Regions from separate parts of the Homo sapiens genome. Here region 2 is linked to region 1. The links come from fine-mapping of genetic effects on gene expression. A gene starts in region 1. The other region holds a variant in brackets. All regions are shown on one strand. Distances are between the middles of the regions. Region 1 holds the start of HS3ST1 (heparan sulfate-glucosamine 3-sulfotransferase 1). Region 2 overlaps LOC105374488 (a long non-coding RNA gene).

The links.
Region 2: its variant is fine-mapped to the expression of HS3ST1 in subcutaneous fat (GTEx, PIP 0.97).

What each region holds. Positions count from the first base shown.
Region 1 is chr4:11,427,014-11,429,922 of GRCh38, forward strand. HS3ST1 (heparan sulfate-glucosamine 3-sulfotransferase 1) reads right to left here and starts at 1,881. Exons shown (of 2, transcript NM_005114.4): 1 at 1,686-1,881. RefSeq lists an enhancer at 1,537-1,756 and a silencer at 1,847-2,026.
Region 2 is chr4:11,263,184-11,266,092 of GRCh38, forward strand. All of the region lies in intron 1 of LOC105374488 (a long non-coding RNA gene), which reads left to right. Among named protein-coding and RNA genes, the nearest start is that of MIR572, 100 kb to the right of the region's middle. The variant C/CA (reference allele first, on the strand shown) is at 1,769.

The sequences.
Region 1 (2,909 bases):
GAAAGCAAGAAAAAAATCCGAACGTCAAAGGATGCGCTTTGCTTTAGAAATGCAGGGAGGCAGAAGTTGGGTTATTTCTCCCTCCTTTTTTTTTCTTTTTTTTTTAAAGATGGAATTCCTGGAATTAACCCTTGGGTGGAAGCATTTCAACAAAATAAAATGAGATTTGCCTGCAAAGCGAGAACGCACGGGTGGGAATGAAGGATCCTGCCTGTGCCAGGCTGCTGCCTCAGCAGTGTCCAAGCACCCAGCGCCTGAAAGCGGGAGCGTGGGGACTCGTCTGGGGACCCTCTTCCGGGGCTACTGGCGGGAGGCGCAGCCGAGCTGGTGGTGGCGGGGTTTCCCTCCGGGGCTAGGGCTGAGGGAGGAGAAGAGGGCGGACTGGCTCCTTCCGTTCTCGGCCACCCTCCCCGCCACTCCTTGAGGCTGCTCCATGCTAACAGGAGACTGTTTCTCGGAGCGCAGCGCAAAGACAGTGGATTTGGAGTGGCCTCCCTAGAATCCCCCCAAAAGCATCTTGGCACAAGTTGTAGATAAAAATAGCTCATGATAACATTGTGGGAAAGGGAGGAGCGAGACTCGCGCAAGGCGAGGCAAGGGTACCACTGGATCTGCAAAGGAGGAGGAAGAGGGAGGATGCAACCCTTGGCCCAAGAGAGCGCCCTGAGTGTGCGAGGAATCGCTGGCTCCCAGGGGAGGGAAAGAGATGGAAGACCTATAGCGCCTATAACTGCAGAGTTATAGACCTATAACTGCAGAGCCCAGCACACCCCATCCCGCGCCGGCACCCGGCTTTGGCTCCAGCTTCTTCTTCCCATCATCCGCCTACGTTCTGGGTCTGTCCTCCGCTTCCTGGGACAGGCTGGGGCTAGAAGGAGGAGCAGCGCGCCGTCCGCCCCCTGGCTGGTAGAGCGCACCTGGAGAGGTCAAGCTCCGCGAATAAGACCCTTCCTGGGAGCTGGGGTCTAGGCGTTCCAACCGCGGGTTCGCACCCCGCCATCCCTCACCTCCATCCGCTGCCACTACCCAAGGGCCCGGAAATAGAAAACCACGAAGGGGGAAAAAAATCAGTAAAAAGTAACAAGAAAAAAATCAAGACCCTCATGTAATTGGCATTAGGGATGAGAGGTTTATTGTCAGGGCTGTCACCTCAATCTCTCTCTTTGGGAGATGCCTATCTCCAACCAAATGCAAAGGCAAACCCGACCAAGGCTTCTCCACCCCCAAAGGCTCCCTCAGCCGAGTTACTTTTGCGGGCTGTGTCCTCGCCCCAGTTTCTGGCCCCAGGTGGTACCCAGGATCCGTTGAGTGCTGCGCTCTCGCTGCCCTACAGGGTCCTATGGTGAAGCTGCGGTCGCGAAGCGGCCGGCAGGAGCGAACCTCACGACTCTGCAGGGGGGGAAAACATCCAACCCAGTAAGAGTCAGAAATCTGGGTCCCTGTCCTTACAGATCAACCGGTCCCTCGGGACTTCCAGAGCAGAGGTGCTAGGGCAGGAGGTGAGGAGGATGGGAAAATCCCCAGCCTTTGCTTCCTGGTTCCCTCTGCATCCACTCCACCTGCTCCAGCCTCGATTCTTCTTAGGTTCTGCACTTGCCCGAAGTCCAGAACGCCAGACAAAGGCACCTCGGAGCCCTCTACACCTGCGTCCTGCCACTCTCCCACCCCGCGCGCGCCGCACTCACCTGAGCCGCGCCTCTGTCCAGCCCGTCCGGCGCCCTAAATAGGCTCCTAGGCTGGGCCATGGGCAGCACTGCCGAGCACCCGCGGCGGGTAGAGCAAGTTTCTGGATGGCCCGGGGCAGGCGGGCGGGGAGAAGGCGCAGGCACCCACTGAGACCCGGCTGTCGTGGCGGCGACTCCTGGCTGCCAGGGCGCAGAGGACCTTGCAGGCGGGCGTTTTGGTGCTCAATCCCGAGGAGGGGGAGGAGCGGGAGGAGGAGCGGGAGCAAAAGGAGGGGACGGAGGAGGCCGGGCCCGGAGGGAGAGCGCGTTGGGCAGAGGAGGATCGCGAGCGCCCACTGCTGCCCGGCCCGCTCGGGTGCCGCCCAGAGTCCGGCCCGCTAGGTGCCTGGTGCTCCGCTCTGCGCTCAGCTGCTCCGCACAGCCCCGCCTGGCACGCAGCTCCAGCGGCTGGTCGGGTAGTAGTCGGTCCCGCCCACCCGGTGCGGTGGCCCCTGGGGTTTCAGTCCAAGGGGAGGGACCAGCGCTCCAAGAAGGTGAGGCTGCTGGGATGGGTGACTCCGCCGTCACTGCAAACACGGGACGTCCCGTCTACTCCCTTACGCCTGCTTGGTCTGAGCCCGAGTCTACCTCTTCTCTAAGTCGCCAGCTCGGCACTTGTACCCGGGACCTGTGCTCCTCCCACGTGAGTCTGCACCATGCGTATTCCCTTCCTGGCAGGTGACCCACCTTAGGCGCTGGCGCTCCTTCCGCCCCCCGGGAAGCAGGAGGTGCCATCCTCTCCAATTCGCTCTGCAGCCGGACTGGGACCGGAGCGGCGGCCTGGGCCAGAATCCGCGTGAGGAGCCGGCTTCAAAGAGCGCCCTGTCGCCATTGAACACTCCTTTTCCTTTGGTTTAGCGTCGGAGAGCGGACGCCAATTTGCCAGGAGAGCGCGGAAAATTCAGCTTTTTTTTTTTTTTTTTTTTTTTTTTTTTTCCGCTAGTGCACTAGGATTGCAAACGTCAGCTCTGAAATAAAAAGCAGGATATTTCTGCCCCGCTCCTCTATTCCGGAAGCTGGGAGGTTCTGTGGGAGAAAGGACCTGCACCCAATAACTCAATTTAAGATTTAAGGTTTTGAGGGGCGTGGGGTTGGAATCGCCTTGGAGAAACGGGTTTGCCTGCTTACCTGAGCCAAAGGAAGTTGCCCTCAAAGGCAGGTCAGCAATCATACCCCGCCAAAAGC
Region 2 (2,909 bases), 160 kb before region 1:
GTTACACATAATGTGTGTGTGTTTGTGTTAAAAAGAGAAATCTACTGTTTTAGCAAATTTCCAGTGTACAATAGGATATTATTAACTATAGTCTTCATGCGATACCTTAGATCTCTAGGCTTCTTTCTCCTCATAACTGCAACTTTGTATTCCTTGTACTATCTCTCCACAGCCCATCTCTCACCCTTGGTAATCACCTTTCTACTCTGCTCTCAACTTTTGTTTACATTCCAGATAAATGAGATCATGCAGTATCTTTCTTTCTGTCTGGTTTATTCCACTTAGCATAATGTCCTCCAGTTTCATTTATGTCCCCCCAAATGATAGGATCTTCTTTTATATTTAAGGCTGAATAACACTTCATTGTATTTTTTGCATATTATCTCTCTCATTCTCTTGAGAGTAATTGGACCTTTTCATTCCCTTCTTCGAATTTCAAACTGTCTTTCACATTGTCTCTTCTTTTTGTCTAGGCACCCCAGGATATCACCTACTGCACTCCAAGTAGTTTTCTTCTATTTATTTGCCAGTTTCTACATTCGTCTCTGTTAAATTGGCTGTTTAAACCATCACTCAAAATCGGTTTTGGTTATTATTTCAATGATTGCATTTTTCATTTTTGTTTCTATTTAGTTATTTTAATGTATACATTAGTGTTCTCTTTCAGCAATGTTTGTATTTCATAGGTTATCCAATAGTTCTACTCTCTAAAGTTTGGGGAATTTAATTCTGTCGAAGTTTTTGCTGGGTCTGCACTTTGTCTCCTTGACTGGAATATAAGTTCCTCTGAGGAATTTTTTTTTTTTTTAATTTTTTCTTCTTTGCTGTTATCCTAGTGCCAAGATCAATGCCTGGCACAGAATTGGTCTTGATAAGCATTTGTTGAAATGCTAAAAATTGGACTATTTCTTGGTGGATTTTGTACTTTTGTGATGTGAACCCACATTCAGCTGGATATTACATGTGGTCTCTTGAGTGGCCTTGGTAAGGATATGCATTGAATTTGCCGTTGCCAGACACCCCAGAGTATCACCAGCCTGGGACCACATTTTGGTCTAATTTATTAGCTGAAGGAGCTAGTATAAATTTAATTCTCAAACATCCACAAGAGCAGAGTTATAGCAAAAAATCTCAGGTGAGATTTTTTTCTTCTATATACAGTCCTGGCCAAAATAAAAGATAGACAAGGATGTTTTTAAGTCAATTTTAAGTGTGAGGACAGATATGATGTCAATTAATTGTGGCAAAGCCATTTGAGGGTCTTGGCTTTATGTTTGAGTCCCAGCCCCAATGTCTTTCTTTGCTGAGACTTCAAAACAACTTCTCAACTCTTCTTTCCTCTCTGTCCCATCAGAGAGCTGAGCCCCACACCTGCAACCCTGTTTTTTAATTCTTTATTTTTTGTCTGTGGTTTACTTTCTTAAGGGCTCAGCTATATGTTTAAAGACTGCTTGTTAAGATCTGCTCAGTATTTCTGAATGATATTACTAAGTGGGATGTCAGTTTCATGCATTATATTCCTAGACATATAGTGTTCTTTGCTCAAGTCTTTTTCATTAGAAGTTATTATTGTACTTAAAATTTATTTTTATCAAAGTTATACATAGTAGGCTTTTAAAGAAAAGAGAATTCCCATGCTCTCATACCTCCCTATTCTCAATTACTATTCTCCAAAGGCAATACTTTAATCTATTTTAGCTGTTTCTTCTGGCATTTATCTCCATAGTTCTAAGCACAAGTATTTTTGCTGTGATGGCAAATATATTAC[C/CA]AAAAAGGCTGAGAGTTCCAGAAGTTGAGGGCTAAAAATAACAGATTTATGAGCAAACTAGGGTTGAGGGCAGACCACTCAAAACTTTGAAATGTGGAGCATCAACTACATATCAAACGTAATAAAATGAGTCACACAAATAAATCTCCAGTGTCATTTTCATCCAGCAACACAGTGCTTGGATCCTGTGCAGCCTACCACACTGGAGCTCTTATTCTCTTCTTCAAAATGTTAATACTTGGGGGCATCTGCTTCTAATAGAGACCAGTTTCATCAAAATTAAAAATCTTTCTCAAGGGGTAGACTTCATCATCAATCTTTTCCTAATACAGAGAGAAATGACCTTGTACGTTCTTCATCAACATCTCCTCAGCTTCCCCCTACACCTTCAGTTAATGGAAATTGTAGTAATTATTAAAGGCACTAAAATGTCACAATTTTTCCTGAAGGAAGGCACTTCAATAAAAGTTTTCATCTTTTTCTTTCTTAAGATCTTTGCATATTGCTAACGCTTTCCTCTTAAATTTTAAGAAAGTTTACCTTTGATAAATTCCAAATAACTACTGAAAAAAACTCTCCCATGGACCAACAGAATCTCTGCATATATGAGTGAAAAACACATACAAAGCAATTCTTATTCCAGAGACACATGTTGCAGGAGAACAGACTGGCCATGATTTGCTTTATGGCCTTTGATATTATCTATTGATATGCTACAGAGGGAGATGAAATACCATGTCCCTTCTTATCCTAAACATAGACCTCCACCAACTCCATCTCTTTCATCAGCTCAACATAGTTTTAGCAGCTGTTTCACATAAAACAGTATTCAGCACTTACAGTCTTTAGCTTATGCAAACTTCATTACATTTTCTTTCCATATAGTTCACTTTTCTAAGCCCAAATTGTTTTGTTCCTTATATGCTTTTTTGAGAGAAAACAAATGAACTATTAATTTAACACCCAACATTATGACAGACCGTACAATGTTTTTCGGGTATAATCAAATTCGGTAACATTTAGTGTAGCTTATCGCAATAGGAAGTAACCTGCGAGACTACTGTTTGCTTGTCGGTTTTGGTTTTGTTTCTTGTGAGATATTCCCCATTGCACTCTCAGCCACTCTGCCACAGTCTGAGCG